5 separate regions of the Homo sapiens genome follow, and all the other regions are reported to be linked to region 4. Evidence: microRNA targets listed by miRTarBase, many of them from high-throughput screens and not tested one by one. Region 4 holds a microRNA gene; each other region holds the end of a gene's coding sequence. Distances are between the middles of the regions.

What was found. Region 4 holds the annotated microRNA hsa-miR-6778-3p (UGCCUCCCUGACAUUCCACAG, at 1,254-1,274, shown strand). A microRNA usually pairs through its seed, bases 2 to 8, with sites in the 3' UTR of a target mRNA and lowers its output. Matches are read on the target gene's strand: a 7mer-m8 pairs with bases 2 to 8, a 7mer-A1 pairs with bases 2 to 7 and ends in A, and an 8mer does both.
Region 1: miRTarBase lists IRGQ as a target of hsa-miR-6778-3p. Seed matches in the 3' UTR shown: 7mer-m8 at 1,056-1,062.
Region 2: the mRNA of MFSD2A is a reported target of hsa-miR-6778-3p. The part of its 3' UTR that is shown has no 7-base or 8-base seed match.
Region 3: the mRNA of RND2 is a reported target of hsa-miR-6778-3p. Seed matches in the 3' UTR shown: 7mer-A1 at 1,478-1,484, 7mer-m8 at 1,528-1,534, 7mer-m8 at 1,661-1,667, 7mer-m8 at 1,703-1,709 and 7mer-m8 at 2,888-2,894.
Region 5: the mRNA of KRABD2 is a reported target of hsa-miR-6778-3p. Seed matches in the 3' UTR shown: 7mer-A1 at 2,160-2,166, 7mer-A1 at 485-491 and 7mer-A1 at 245-251.

What each region holds. Positions count from the first base shown.
Region 1 is chr19:43,589,344-43,592,474 of GRCh38, reverse strand. IRGQ (immunity related GTPase Q) reads left to right here. Exons shown (of 3, transcript NM_001007561.3): 3 at 1-3,131. The coding sequence ends at 449. Among named protein-coding and RNA genes, the nearest start is that of IRGQ, 5.2 kb to the left of the region's middle. RefSeq lists an enhancer at 2,652-2,741.
Region 2 is chr1:39,968,945-39,972,075 of GRCh38, reverse strand. It overlaps MFSD2A (MFSD2 lysolipid transporter A, lysophospholipid), which reads right to left. Exons shown (of 14, transcript NM_032793.5): 14 at 2,120-2,571. The coding sequence ends at 2,508. Among named protein-coding and RNA genes, the nearest start is that of MFSD2A, 15 kb to the right of the region's middle.
Region 3 is chr17:43,028,127-43,031,257 of GRCh38, forward strand. It overlaps RND2 (Rho family GTPase 2), which reads left to right. Exons shown (of 5, transcript NM_005440.5): 4 at 1-69; 5 at 306-3,131. The coding sequence ends at 554. Among named protein-coding and RNA genes, the nearest start is that of RND2, 4.5 kb to the left of the region's middle.
Region 4 is chr17:18,338,957-18,342,087 of GRCh38, reverse strand. MIR6778 (microRNA 6778) reads left to right here and starts at 1,202; the gene lies at 1,202-1,274. It overlaps SHMT1 (serine hydroxymethyltransferase 1), which reads left to right. Exons shown (of 12, transcript NM_004169.5): 6 at 1,275-1,356; 7 at 1,833-2,045.
Region 5 is chr17:8,366,563-8,369,693 of GRCh38, forward strand. KRABD2 (KRAB domain containing 2) reads right to left here. Exons shown (of 2, transcript NM_001304947.3): 2 at 1-3,131. The coding sequence ends at 2,572. Among named protein-coding and RNA genes, the nearest start is that of KRABD2, 8.6 kb to the right of the region's middle.

The sequences.
Region 1 (3,131 bases), not on the chromosome of region 4:
CGGCGTTGCGAGCCGGGGCGTGGAGGCCAGCTCTGCTGGCTAGTCTGGCGGCGGCGGCGGCACCACTCCCAGGGCTGGGCTGGGCATGCGACGTGGCACTTCTGCGGGGTCAGCTGGCGGAGTGGCGACGGGGCCTGGGGCTGGAACCCACGGCACTGGCTCGACGTGAGCGTGCCCTGGGCCTGGCTTCTGGAGAGCTGGCAGCGCGCGCTCATTTCCCAGGCCCGGTGACGCGCGCCGAGGTGGAAGCAAGACTGGGCGCCTGGGCGGGCGAGGGCACTGCTGGGGGCGCAGCACTGGGGGCTCTCTCCTTCCTGTGGCCTGCGGGTGGTGCAGCGGCGACAGGTGGCCTGGGCTACCGAGCGGCTCACGGCGTCCTGCTGCAGGCTCTCGATGAGATGCGGGCTGATGCTGAGGCTGTGCTGGCACCCCCTGAGCCTGCCCAGTGAGGAGTGGGAGGGGGCTTGGGAGTCCAGACTCTGACAGGGGATGCCTGGGCTTAATCCTGGGTGCTTGAAGGGGATGTGGACTCTTGACTTCCAGCTGGGATGTGTGACTTCTTATCACCTGGATTCAGAGAGTCTGGGGGACAGGAATCCTGATTTTTTTTTTTTTTTTTCTTTTTTTTGTGAGACGAAGTCTCTTGTTGCCCAGGCTGGAGTGCAATGGCGCGACCTCGGCTCACTGCAACCTCCGCCTCCCGGGTTCAAGCGATTCTCCTGCCTCAGCGTCCGGAGTAGCTGGGATTACAGGTGCCTGCCACCACACCTGGCTAATTTTTGTATTTTTAGTAGAGACGGGGTTTCACCATGTTGGCCAGGCTGGCCTCGAACTCCTGACCTCAGGCGATCGACCCGCTCCGGCCTCCCAAAGTGCTAGGATTACAGGCGTGAGCCACCGCCCCTGGCCAGGAATCCTGATACCTTTGGGAACCATGGTGAATGACATCTAGACCCTTCTGTCCTGAAGGGAGTTGGTGGCCCAGACTCTAGCAGGGACTATGTCTTTGTCTCCTAGGGAGTAGAAACTGGAGTTACTGGATGTTTAGTCCTCCAGGGAGGCTGGTAGAAGTCCTGTTTCCTAATTGGTGGGGAGGTGTCCATGACTGGGACCTGAACTCCAGTATAGGGGAGGGAGACCTGAGCGCCCCAGGGAGCTGGAACTCTTGGGCTTCAGAGCCTCAGAGGGAAACAGGGTCTACATTTCTCTGGGAGAAAAAGCCTGCACACAGGTCCCCAAGGAGCAGTGGGCTTTGAATCTTGATGGGGTGGCGGAGGCCCCTGGGGTCTGAGACTTCCGGGGTTCTAAGATGGCTGTGGACCTTGGTTCCTAAATATTGGGTAAGGGGAGGTCTGCATCTGGAGGAGGGATCGGGGGCTTGTGCGAGAAAGCTGGAGACTTCTTGATCTCTCCTGGGGAGTGGATGGGTTTCTATAATTGCCCTCCAAAAGCATGTAGGGAGGGTGGTCCCACAAAAATGAGGTGAGGTGGGTAAGAGGTCTGGGCATGGTGGGCTCTGGGAGTAGCCAGGGACCAGGAATGAGGTCTTTTGGGTGTGGAAGGGCAGTAAAGCATACCTCAGAGACAGCTCCTCCAAACCTTGTATTGGGATCCCGGCAACTGCCTCTGTGAGTGTGACTGGGAAGGGATATGACTGCCTTCATCTTCTAGGTGCTGAGCAATTCAGGTGATCTCTGGGGAGTCTGTTTCTCTGTCTCTTTTCTTTAGGAGTTTCTATCTTTTTTTGGCCTTTTTCTCCTGGTATTTAACCATAACCCTTTATGGCCTTGGTGTTTTGTGCACCTTCCTTTTCAGAAGAGCAGCTGTACTGCTGCACTGGTCCAAACACTTCTGTATGGACACCTCGGGTATCCCCAAGAGGCTCTGCTTTCTGATGTACATAGAGGGTGCTGCATTGAGCCAGGGGCCCACCAAATGGGTGGTCAGGCACTTGAGACCATGGGAATATGCCAGGAGTGAATGAAGCAAAGGCAGAAACCACAGTGCCTGGAATGTTCTAGGCTGCTAGCCACATGTGGGGGAAAAGTTGCAGGTTACAGAATTCTTCAGTGTCAAAAACAGAAAAGGAGGATCTGAGAATCCAAGCGATAGAATCCCTTTTGTCGTAGACAGAAAGAGCAAAGTCCAGAGAGGGCAGGCTTGAGGCCCAACAGCACACAGTAAGGCCCTGTGGGTCTGGCCCTTGCCTATTCTCATTCACTGCCCCTTCCCACTCCTGTCCAGCCTGATAGACTTTCCTTCTTTTTTTTTTTGAAATGGAGTCTCACCTTGTCACCCAGTCTGGAGTACAGGGATGTGATGACTGTAGCTGAGATGACAGGCATGTGCCACCACACCTGGCTAATTTTTGTAGTTTAGTAGAGAAGGGATTTCACCCTGTTGGTCAGGCTGGTCTCGAACTCCTGACCTCAGGTGATCCACCCGACTCAGACTCCCAAAGTGCTGGGATTACAGGTGTGAGCCATCATGGCCGCCTGACTCTTTCTGATGCCTGAGTGGCTACCTTGAGTCCTGCCTGGGGACCCATGCACCTGCTGTTCTCTTTCCTTCAAGGCTCTACTCACAACTTCCTGTTCTACTCTCAAACCTTCCTGTGACGGGCTCAGTCAGATCTCAGCTCACGTATCCCCTCAGAGAGGACTTCCCCTCCCTGACCACCCTATCTGAAGTAGCTCACATTCCCCCACTATTCATTTCGGCCAGTTGAGTTTCCTTGTAGCAATTATTACTGTCAAAAATGATCTTATTTATTTACCTGTTTATTGGCTTTTGACCCGTTGCCTGTCCTGTTCTCTGTTGTTTCCCCAGCATCTAGAACAATAGGTGCCTGACACAATAGGTGCTTCGTAAATATTTATTATTATTATTATTATTTTAGAGACAGGGTCTTGCTCTGTTGCCCCGGCTGGAATACAGTGGGATGATCATGGCTCACTGCCATCTCCAACTCCTGGGCTCAAACGATCCTCCCACCTCCGCCTACAGAGTAGCTGGGACTATAGGTACACAGCACCAAATTTTCTGTAGAGACGGGGGTCTTGCTTTGTAGCCCACACTAGTGTTGAACTCCTGGCCTCAAGTGATCCTCCTGCCTTGATGGGATTACAGGT
Region 2 (3,131 bases), not on the chromosome of region 4:
CCCAGGCTGGAGTGCAATGGCATGGTCTCAGCTCTTTGCAACCTCCGCCTCCCAGGTTCAAGCCATTCTCCTGCCCTCAGCCTCCCAAGTAGCTGGGATTACAGGCATGTGCTACCACGCCTGGCTAGTTTTGTTTTTGTTTGTTGGTTTTTGGTTTGTTTCTGTTTTGAGACTGGTTCTCTCTGTCCCCCAGGCTGGAGTGCAATGGCGCGATCTCAGCTCACTGCAACTGCTGCCTCCTGGGTTCAAGCGATTCTCCTGCCTCCGCCTCCTGAGTAGCTGAGATTACAGGCATGCACCACCACACCTGGCTAATTTTTGTATTTTTAGTAGAGACGGGGTTTCACCATGTTGGCCAGGCTGGTCTCGAACTCCTGACCTCAGGTGATCTGCCCGCCTCGGCCTCCCAAAGTGCTGGGATTACAGGCGTGAGCCACTGCGCCCAGCTGAAAACTTTAATTTTTTTTTTTTTTTAAAGACAGGACTTGGTGGTTACTGGTTAGAGTGGAGGGAGAGAGGAGGTATAAGTGGGCTTCTATAAACATTATCTCAGAGTCTCTGAGCAGGCCAGCTCCAGAGGCCATAACAGACTCTAGGCTCCTGCCTTGCCCAGACAGCCTGACATGAGATGGCTGATACAAAGACAGTGTGTGACTTGCCTTGGTGTTGACAAAACCATTGGTTCACCTAACAGCCTTAAGTAGTGGTTAAGAGCCCAGGCACTATAGCCAACCTCGATTCAAGTATCAGCTCTTCCAGTGACTGTCCAATGACCTTGAGCAGGTTACTTAACTTTTCCCTGCGTCAGTTTCCTTATCTCTTAACGTGAGGATGACAATAATACCTTCCTCATAGGGAAGTTCTGACAACTATCTGAAGACTAACTGAATTCATACTTATTACACACATGTAACCATGCCTGTTAGTAACGCTTAATGTAATTTATCAAAGTAACCTGGCAGAACTTCATCAGTAAAAATGGTGGACCTCCCTCCCACCCAAAACGGAGCCCCACACTCAAGGTAAGAACCAAGCCAGAATAGCCTAAGAGCCTCTCTTGTCTGGGCCTCATTTATCTATTTATAAAATCAGGAGATTTGACTAGTAGCTCCTGATCCTGCCAGCTTTGCCTTCTTGTGATTTTGGGGGCTTGGCCTAAGTGTGAGACCCAGTGGTGTGTTAGGCAAGCTCCTACCAGCTTGTAAAAGCCAACTACTAAATGTTTAGGAAATGTTCAAATGAACAACCATGGATAACTTGAAATTGGCTATGGTGGGAGTTATTCATACCATGGAAGTTAGCCAAGTGCTCCCAACTAGGCCTTCCCCACCACCCTGTTCCCTACCGGAGGTGTTTGGTTTTTTTTTGTCACCAGTGCGTCTGTGGTAAAATCCTCCCTCATCTGATACACACATCCAGCAGGTACATTCTCACCTTTCAATACCATCAGTAACAGTTGTGGAGAAAGAACCACCAGTCTCCAGGGACCCCACAGGCCTCCAGCCCCACCAGCCCTGCAGGCTCAGGCATGCACCAGGCAGGAAGCACAGTGTACAGGCACACCCAGAGCAAGCATCTGTCTGCCGGTCCCCTGGTCATTCTCAGACACAAGGAAGTAGACAGTGGCGATTACGGTATTGGAGTCTTACAGAGTTGGGATAAAATTCCAGTTAGGTCACTAAAGGCTGCGTGACTTTAGCTAAATCCCTCTCTACACTAGGGTGTTCTTATCTTTCAAATAAGAACAGTCTTGACTTAGCAAGAGGCCAGGTGTAGTGGTTCACACCTGTAATCCCACTACTTTGGGAGGCTAATGCAGGAGGATTGCTTGAGTCCAGTGAGAAGGATTGGCCTGGGCAACATAGTGAAACCTCCATCTCTACAAAAAAATTTAAAAATCAGCCAGGCGTGGTGGTGCATGCCTGTAGTCCCAGCTACTCGAGAGGGTGAAGCAGAAGGAAGGATTGCCTGAGCCGAGATTGCGCCACTGCACTCCAGCCACAACTCCAGACATGTTCGCCCCCACCCAGTAGCACCTGGGGCTCAGTGTGTTCTCTAACGGAGTCTTAAGGCAGAAGGGCTCAGTGAGTGGCTGAGGACACAGACAGAAACAGGCAGCTGCTTTCCAGCTTTTATGAAAATTAATAACATTAATAGCTCACAGACATATACATACACACACATTGCTATGTACACAGTCATTAAGTTATTAATTAGGCTCTGTAAAAAAAAAGGTTTCTACATTAGTGTTCCGGGCTAGGCCCGATCAGTCCTTGGCATATTCACAGTGGCAGCCCCAGGGCTTGGCCCCACAGGCAGGCAGAGGGGAGGCAGGAGGCCACAGAGCAGCCGGCCCCACAGTGAGCACAGCAAGTGTCCTGGGCCACCTCCTTGAGTCTTCAGTTCCCTTCCTAGCACCTGCAGTCCAGCTGCTCAGCAAGCCGGCAGACAGGTCCTGATCCCTTCTGTGGCCTTCTGCATGGTGGCTTCGGGCAACGTGGCGGGCCCTAGAGGATGCTAGCCAGCTCTGTGGAGTCTGTTTCTGAGCAGCCAGAGCTGCTGGCCTCGTCCCTGCAAGAGAGAGAGGAGATGGGTTGGAGGAAGCATCCATCCTTACCCCTCCTCAGCCCCACCTGCCTCCTTCCTCACGTGATCTTGGCCCTGCTGTCGGACTAAAGTGAACCGCGGGACACAGAGTTTGCTCACTCCCACTTTCAACTGTTGGTTGGTCTGTTTACTGTCCTTGCTGCACACAGGGTACTGCAAACCCTAGATCTACACTCTCGCCTGGGCTGGCTGACGGGCTGGCATGACTCACTCCAGCCTGCCCACTGGTTTCCCCAGATGCAGGGTCAGGCCACACTCGAGGTCCTATATGCCAGGAGGCTGATGAAGAGTGCAGTCTCTGGAGCCGGAATGCTGAGGCTCAAACCCCAGCTCCGCCCCTTTCAGCTGGGCCAGGTACTCTTCCTGCTGAAACCTCAACTTCTTCACCTGCAGAGGGGGAACCCTAAGAACCTGATACTTAGGGTTGTTGGAGGGGTATGGGAGGTGATGGATACACACGTCCTATAACAGGCTCCTTAAGGACAGAGATTTTTGTCTTGTTCACTAGAGCAGTCAATGCCTAG
Region 3 (3,131 bases), 25 Mb from region 4:
ATGCGGACTGACCTGGCCACACTGAGGGAGCTGTCCAAGCAGAGGCTTATCCCTGTTACACATGAGCAGGTGGGACCCTTGACGTCTGACCTCATCCCAGCCTAGACCTGTCACCTCTGCCCCTTCAGTCTCTGATTTGAAAACACCTTACCTGGCTCATCCTTTGTTCTGGTCTGTGACCTCTGACCTGATCCCTTGACTGCCCCCAGCCTTGACATTCAACCCCAGCCCACAGCCTCCATGCCCCTTTCTAAGCTGCAGGCTAAGACCTATAACTTTCTCCCATGCACTCCTTCCTTTTCCAGGGCACTGTGCTGGCCAAGCAGGTGGGGGCTGTGTCCTATGTTGAGTGCTCCTCCCGGTCCTCTGAGCGCAGCGTCAGGGATGTCTTCCATGTGGCTACAGTGGCCTCCCTTGGCCGTGGCCATAGGCAGCTGCGCCGAACTGACTCACGCCGGGGAATGCAGCGATCCGCTCAGCTGTCAGGACGGCCAGACCGGGGGAATGAGGGCGAGATACACAAGGATCGAGCCAAAAGCTGCAACCTCATGTGAGGGGCTAGGAGAGGGCAGAGTGTGAAGAGGGGTGGTGAGGGACACAATTGTTCCCCTGCCTGCGCCCAGGCTTCCTGACCTCCTGATCCTGGCTGGGAAGTTAGGGCAGGCAGAGCGAGCAATTCTGGGCAGGGGAGCTGGAGGGCAGAAGGGTATCATCGTTTCTCATCTCCTCCTCCCTCCTCTTCTCCAGTGGATGTTGAGGGAGCTAACAGGGCTGGCATCTGGGGCATGAACTGGGATGGGGCAGGTGGGCGTTAGGGAAGCTGGTATCAAATGGTGACCTTGGTGGAGTCTCCTATGTGAAGAGTACCCTCCCTCTCCACCCCCAGTCCCCATATCCTGGTTCTGGCCCAAGGAAAATGTCCATTCTATGACCTTCTCTTTTCCTCTCCTCTCACTTCTGCAGCTATTCTCACACATCTAACCTCTAGGCAACATGCACTAAATTCAAAAGCAAGGAGAAGCCCTTGCCCCCCATCAGTCCACCAGCCCTAGAACCTCCCTTGCCTCAACAGTCACCTAATAAAGCCCACCTCCATGGAAAACGGCTGTGGCTTTAGTTTTGTTGCTTTTTAAAAAAATCAATCTACCAATCTTTAGCAGTAAGAGGGAAAGTTAGACCTCAGCTGGGGAACTTTCCTGTCCATGTCCACAGATAGAGCAGAGGACAAAGCCATAGGTTGGATCAGAAGTGTCCTTTTAGGAGTCAGAGTTGGGAGAAGGAGACATCCTGGGACTGTTCATCCTAGTTAATGAAGTGGGCAATTCTCAGGCCATTAGGGGGTTTTAGAGCAGACCGACATATAATTAGTCAGCATTTCTCAGCCCAGCCAGGCCTGCTGCTAGTGTGGGAGGGGTCCTGCTCACCATCTGTACCCCTGGCTTGGAGCCTGCTGGTACCCTGGGGGTTGTGGGGATAAGGAGGCATCAGGCCGGGCGCGCTGGCTCACGCCTGTAATCCCAGCACTTTGGGAGGCCGAGGTGGGCGGATCACAAGTTCAGGAGATCGAGACCATCCTGGCTAACACGGTGAAACCCCATCTCTACTAAAAATACAAAAAATTAGCCAGGCGCGGTGGCAGTGCCTGTAGTCCCAGCTGCTCGGGAGGCTGAGGCAGGAGAATGGTGTGAACCCGGGTGAACCTGGGAGGCGGAGCTTGCAGTGAGCCGAGATTGCGCCACTGCATTCTAGCCTGGATGACAGAGCAAGACTCTGTCTCCAAAAAAAAAAAAAAAAAAAAAAAAGAAGGCATCAAAAGCCTCCACATCACAGAAGCTACCCCTGTACAGCGTGAAGTTTCCTAAGAGGTCAGTAGTTTGATTCTGGGGTCTCCTTAGAGGCTCAGGCCAGGGACCTTTCTCTCCTCCCATGCTGAGTTTCATGATGGCTTTCAGGGGAGCATCAGCTGTTAGAGTCACCCCTACCCTGTCCCTTAAAGGAAAGACGGTGGAGAGGACGGCTGAGCGCCTGTTGTCAGGAAAGACAGTACTGGTCTGTTTTCTCGGGAGTCTGGTTTCAGATTGTCCTGTATTCCCTTCCTGGCTCTGGTCCCACTGGCCTCTTTTCGGTGACATTCTCCCCCAGGAACCATCCCTGGCCCTTCCCTCCCCCAGCCCTAGCCAGTTCTCCCAGACACACTGGAAGAGAACACTGACCTTACCCAACTATCTGCTGGGATCCCACCCAAATTTATAGCCCATTCCTCCCTCATTCATTCATTCAGCAAGTATGTACTGAACACCAACTGTGTGGCATACACTGGCTTGGGAGATTGCAAGGACCAGTCTCTAAGCTTTTGGAGGCCAGCCCAGTGTGGAAGAGAGGTACCTCAGGTGTGAGGGTGCCATGGCTGAGGGATATTTGTACATGTATGGGATGCTATGGGAGCTCCTTGCAGCCTGAGAAGCCAGTCCTGTGAGCCAGGTCCTGAGGGTTGAAGAGGAGTTTTCCGGGCAGGGAAGGGGTAGGAAAGGCACTCTGGGCAGAGGGTACAGCATGTGTAAACACGTGGAGATGAGAATGAGCATAGCACTGTTGGGGCTCCCATGGCAGGGAGAATAGAAGACAAGGCTAGGAAGGTACACTGAGGCTACTGCAGGGTCCACAGAGGAATCAGAATTTCATTCTGAGGATGAATGAAATCATCCTCAGAGGATGAAGCCACCAGGAATTTCAGGCAGAGAGTGAAGTGATCAGAGTTGTTTTTTGGATAGATGGTTATCTGGATGTGGTGTTGGAGCTGGGAGATTTGGCTCTGAGGTGTGTCATTTAAAATAATAGCTTCTCGGCAGTGGCTCACACCTATAATCCCAGCCAAGATTCCTCCTTTGGGAGGCCAAGCTGGGAGGATCGCTTGAGGCCAGGAGTTAGAGACTGCAGTGAGCTATGATCATGCCATTGTCTTCCAGCCTGAGTGTCAGAGTGAGACCCTGTCTCTAAAAAAAATTAAAAAATAAAAAATAAAAAATAGCTTCTCCTTTCCCTTATGCCAGGTTCCAGTCTTGAGAGGAAAGGAATCCCTACCCACCACTCCCTGGATCATCAGATATCCCTATCCCAACCTCTCCTATGGG
Region 4 (3,131 bases):
GTCTCTTTGACATACTGATTTCAAGTTCTTAAGATATAGATTCACAAGTGGGATTGCTGAATATGGAATTGATTTGTGTGGGTGAGGCGGGCATCCAGATAACATTTTTGTCCAAATGGATGCCCAGTTGACCTAGTGCCATTGATTGAAAAGGTCATCCTCTCCCCACTGCACTGCAGCGTCACCACTGGCATGGATCCAATGACCTGTGTTGTGTGTGGTTCTGCTTCTGGTTAAGCCAGATGCTCTGCCCTTCCATGAATGCGTGCTGCCTTAATTACTATAATTTGTCAAGCATTTTGTGACACAAAATACACAACGCAATGATGTTTTGTGTAAAGGTTTGGTATGATTTTCCTTTTATGGTTTTTGTTATTTACATTTCATTTTCTATCTTTCTTGCTTTTATATACTTTTTGGCTTTTTTTTTTTTTTTTTTTCAGATGGAGTCTCGCTCTGTTGCCCAGGCTGGAGTGCTGGAGTGCAGTGGCACAATCTCGGCTCACTGCAAGCTCCACCTCCCGGGTTCACGCCATTCTCCTGCCTCAGCCTCCCAAGTAGCTGGGATTACAGGCGCCCGCCACCATATCTGGCTAATTTTTTGCATTTTTAGTAGAGACGGGGTTTCACCGTGTTAGCCAGGATGGTCTCGATCTCCTGACCTCATGATCTGCCCGTCTCAGCCTCCCAAAGTGCTGGGATTACAGGTGTGAGCCACCGCGCCCAGCCCCTACTTCTTGTTTTTCAATGTTGTATCCAGTGACCTTGCTAAATTTGCTTATTCTAACAGTTGGCCCCTAGCATCTTGATTTTCTAGGTATATTGTGTTGTCTGTGTGTAATGTCAGTTTTTAAATTTCTTCTTTCCTAATCGTTATGCCTTTTGTTTCTTTTTCTTGCCTCATTATACTTGGAATAGAAGTAGTATTAGCAGGCATTTTGGTCTTGTTCCTGAAGGTAACCATTTTGGTTTCCATTGTGTGGTCCCGTCACATTTGTTTCATTCTGCAGGTGCTTTTTGGTTCCTTCTCAGCAGGTAGTGCCCCAGCAGCAGGGCTCACTACAACCCTGGGACTCCTCAGGGACTCCTGGGTCTGTGAGCCATACTTGGTTGAGCAGGCTGAACACACCAGTATCCATCCTGTCTCACCCTCAAGTCCTCATCTAGGACATCATTCCTCTTGTCATGGTGGGTGGAGCCAGTTCAAGTGGGAGGACAGGAGGCAGGTGTGGTTGGAGGAAGCAGCCTGAACCTGCCTCCCTGACATTCCACAGGTGAACCCAGATACTGGCTACATCAACTATGACCAGCTGGAGGAGAACGCACGCCTCTTCCACCCGAAGCTGATCATCGCAGGTGATGCGCGGGGCGGAAAGTCACCTTGTTCACCAGTAGCCTGGTGCCTCTTACAGAATGAGGATGGAAAGATGTTCGCACCCTGTTGAGCCCACTGCTAGTTTCTGCCCTGGATAACTGAGTTTCTGGGGTCTACATATATTAGTTTCTTTCAGGATACAGATGTGTGTTTGCTGCTTTTTGTGCTATGTAGATTAAGATGTGAGACTGTTCTCAGAGAAGCATCTAGAAATGTCAGGCCCTGACTGCGCTGGCAATAGTAGTTGGGGCCATCTCAACCACCAAGACGTTGAAGAGTTAGAGTGGTTGCCTTTAGCACAGAGGTGCTTTTTGAGGGCATTCTCCATTTTTGCTCTGAGACTTTAAGGGAAGAAATCTCTGGGCTTTCAGATCTGCACATCTAGAGGCCACTGTGAAGCCAACTCAGCTGGCCGGTGGACATCTCTGATGCAGCTGTGTCACCTTTCCTGTCTCAGGAACCAGCTGCTACTCCCGAAACCTGGAATATGCCCGGCTACGGAAGATTGCAGATGAGAACGGGGCGTATCTCATGGCGGACATGGCTCACATCAGCGGGCTGGTGGCGGCTGGCGTGGTGCCCTCCCCATTTGAACACTGCCATGTGGTGACCACCACCACTCACAAGACCCTGCGAGGCTGCCGAGCTGGCATGATCTTCTACAGGAAAGGTGAGCTCCCGAATGTTGGGTACAGATGGGTACCATGGTTTACATTTCTCCTGTGGGGGTTCAGATTCAGTTGAGGGAGCTGGGAAAAACTCTGACCTGGGATCCTTGGAAAATATTAAGATCCCAGTCCCTTAAAGAGCTGCTTAGGAAGGAGCAGTGACAGGCTTTACAGAAAGGATTCCCGGCCAGGTGAGGTGGCTCGCGCCTGTAATCCCAGCACTTTGGGAGGCCGAAGCGGGCAGATCACGAGGTCAGGAGATCAAGACCATCCTGGCTAACACGGTGAAACCCCGTCTCTACTAAAAACACGAAAAATTAGCCGAGTGTGGTGGTGGGCACCTGTAGTCCCAGCTACTCAGGAGGCGAAGGCAGGAGAATGGCGTGAGCCTGGGAGGTGGAGCTTGCAGTGAGCTGAGATTGTGCCACTGTACTCCAGCCTGGGCGACAGAGCGAGATGCCGTCTCAAAAAAAAAAAAAGAAAGAAAGAAAGGAATCCCCAGAAGGAGACTGTCAGCCACAGCTCCTGCTTCACTTTTGTGCATCCAGGTCCTAGGAACATAGGAGGGGGATCAGCAACCACTATGTGTTAGGATGGCGCCGGTTGCTGAACTCGAGAGGCAGGTGTTTGAATGAAAGGAGGGTGCATGGCTGGCTGGGGGCCACTGGGAGGCCTCACAAGGCTGCATTATTCTGGTGAACTTACAGTGATCCATCATGTTTCTCAAAGAGAAAGACTCATAGTAGTCAAACTAGAAGACATGGATGTATAAACATTAATATCATTTTAGTGAAGGTTTTTCTTTCCATTACCTCATAACCTACCCCTAGGCACTCCCCTTATTTTCGAATTCCCATACCTGGGAAAGCCTGTTAGTGGTCAGGTCATCATTTAGCCTGTGGTGAGACCTGATGCGCCAACTTTGCATCAGCAGAGACACCAGCCCTCTGGTGACTACATTACTCTTTTTTTTTTTTTTTTTTTTTTTTTTTTTTAGTATTTATTGATCATTCTTGGGTGTTTCTCGTGGAGGGGGATTTGGCAGGGTCATAGGACAATAGTGGAGGGAAGGTCAGCAGATAAACAAG
Region 5 (3,131 bases), 10 Mb from region 4:
TGTTTCATGCAGTTACACAATTATCTGTGCATAATGCTCTGAGAAAAGGGATGGCACATACAGTTTCTCCTGAAGCGGGAAACAGAGCCCAGTTGGTAAGGTGGCCAGTCTCTAGGGCATCTTAGATGAACCTTGTTTCTTCCTATTACTTTTCCTTCATCTACTTTTTTTTTTTCTGAGATAGAGCCTTGCTCTGTCGCCCAGGCTGGAGTGCAGTGGCATGATCTCGGCTCACTGCAACCTCTGCCTCCTAGGTTCAAGGGATCTTCCTACCTCAGGCTCCTGAGTAGCCAGGATTACAGGTGCATGCCACCGTGCCCGGCTAATACTTTGCATTTTTGTAAAGACGGGGTTTCACCATGTTGGCCAGGCGGGTCTCGAACCCCTGACCTCAAGTGATCGGCCGCCTAAGCCTCCAAAGTGCTGGGATTACAGGCATGAGCCACCGTGCCCAGCCTTCCTTCATCTACTTATTTTCCTGTGATGCCTCCATGTTTTAGAGTATGTGTCTGAGGGGCAGGAATATGTATTAGATATATCTAGGGCAGTCCCACCAGCTTTACATTCTTGAGACCTCATCCATCAGTTCTTGTTTTGCAGACATATACTTCTATTGACTACAATGAGAAGTGTGTCTCTTAAAAAGGTAAGTCTGGCCGCGCGTGGTGGCTCACGCCTGTAATCCCAGCACTTTGGGAGGCAGAGGCAGGTGGATCACGAGGTCAGGAGATCGAGACCATCCTGGCTAACATAGTGAAACCCCGTCTCTACTAAAAATACAAAAATTAGCTGGGTTCGTGGGGGTGCGTGCCTGTAGTCCCAGCTACTCAGGAGGCTGAGGCAGGAGAATCGCTTAAACCTGGGAGGCGGAGGCTGCAGTGAGCCCAGATCATGCCACTGCACTCCAGCCTGGGCGACAGAGTGAGATTCTGTCTCCAAAAAAAAAAAAAATTAGCCAGGTGTGGCAGTGCACGCCTGTAGTCCCAGCTACTGGGGAGGCTGAGGCAGGAGAATTGCTTGAACTGGGGAGGCAGAGGCTGCAGTGAGCCCAGATTGTGCCACTGCACTCCAGCCTCAGTGACAGAGCGAGACCCTGTCTCAAAAAAAAAAAAAAAAAACAAGTGAACAAAGGTCTCTGGTTTTCCTAGGCAGAGGACCCTGCGGCCTTCCGCAGTGTTTGTGTCCCTGGGTACTTGAGATTAGGGAGTGGTGATGACTCTTAAGGAGCATGCTGCCTTCAAGCATCTGTTTAACAAAGCACATCTTGCACCGCCCTTAATCCATTGTTTATCTGCTGACCTTCCCTCCACTATTGTCCTGTGACCCTGCCAAATCCCCCTCTGCAAGAAACACCCAAGAATGATCAATTAAAAAAAAAAAAAAAAAGTTAAGAGCAAAAAAAAAAAAAAAAAAGTCCTGGTTGGGTGTGGTGGCGTGTGCCTGTAATCCTAGCACTTTGGGAGGCCAATCCCTTGGGCCCAGGAGTTTGAGACCAGCCTGGGCAATATAAGGAGACCCTATCTCTAAAAAAATGAAAAAAAAAATAAATAAATAAGTTCAAGTTCAGGTCCCTAGTACCTGTGAATGTCACCTTACTTGGAAAGAGTATTCGCTGATCTAATTAAGGTAAGGATCTCGAGATGAGATCATCCTCATTAGAGTGGGCCCTAAATCCAGTGACATGGATTTGGTGTCCAGTGATGTCTTTACAAGAGACAGGAAAGAATACACACAGGTATTCCTGTGTATTTCAAGTCAAGTTGTATATGGTAGTCCTTGCTTAATAAGGGAAAAGTTCGGGTCTGTGTATTTATTCTTAGGGCTGCCATAAAAAATTATGGCCTTCTCAGGGGAGAAGGCCACATGAAGATAGAAGCAGAGACTGGACTTACACTGTCACAAGCCAAGGACTGCCAAGGATTGCCGATGGCCACTAGAGAAAGGAGAAAGGCATGGAATGGATTCTCCCCCAGAGCCTCCAGAAAGAACCTACCTTACTAACACTTTAATTTCAGACTTTGGGCCTCCAGAACTGTGAGACTCAATTTCTGTTAAGTCACCCATGTGGTGGTAATTTTTTTTTTTTTTTTTTGAGACAGAGTCTTGCTTTGTCACCCAGGCCGGAGTGCAGTGGCATGGTCTCGGCTCACTGCAACCTCTGCCTCCTGGGTTCAAGTGATTCTCCTGCCTCAGCCTCCTGGTTAGCTGGGATTACAGGCACACAGCTCCAAGCCTGGCTAATTTCTATATTTTCAGTAGAGACAGGGTTTCATCATGTTGGCCAGGCTAGTCTTGAACTCCTGATCTCAAGTGACCCGCCCACCTTGGCCTACCAAAGTGCTGGGATTACGGGCATGAGCGCTGCGCCCGGCCAGGTTGTGGTAATTTTTTATGGCAGCCCTAAGAATAAATACACAGACCTGAACTTTTGTCTTTTTGAGCAAGGACTGCCATGTACAACTTGACCTGAGAGTGCAGCCTTCAATCTTTTCCTCTGGGGCCTCTGGCAACAGTTCTCAGATGACTATGCTCAGAGAGACACCTGTGACTGTCCACCCAGCAGCCATCTGTTCACCAGCAGAGGAGACCGGAAGTCCCTTGTGAGGTGCTGGGTTCTGAAGCTTCAGGAGTGGGATCCATGTCATCGTCCATATCAGATCTGTCTGCTCCAATCTCAGCCCTTTCTTCCTGCCTGATCCAAAGGCTATTTTCTAGCTGTTCTTCAGCAATTTCTAGCTCTTCTTCCGTTTGTAAAGTAGCCACAGTTTCCCGGGGCAAGTTTGAGGAATATAGCCCAAATTTGGCTTTATAGCCAAACATTGCCTCAAATGGACTTTGCTGCAAGGAAACGTCGAAAGCCTGATTCCTCACCATCTGCATGAATCGGAGGCCTTTGGCCCAGTGACATGAGTGGTTACTCTGCATCCAGGTACTTATCATGTTCTTTACATCACGGCTTGCTCCTTCCAGGGAGCCCTGGCTTTGGCCAGGGTGGTACTTACCAGATACAATCTTTAGGTCTGGCCACAACTCATTGAGCTCATGAACAACCTGGTTTGTGAACTCAACGCCACTGTCAGAGTCTAACACACTGGGTGTACCAAGAATTGTGAAAATATCTAACAAGACAC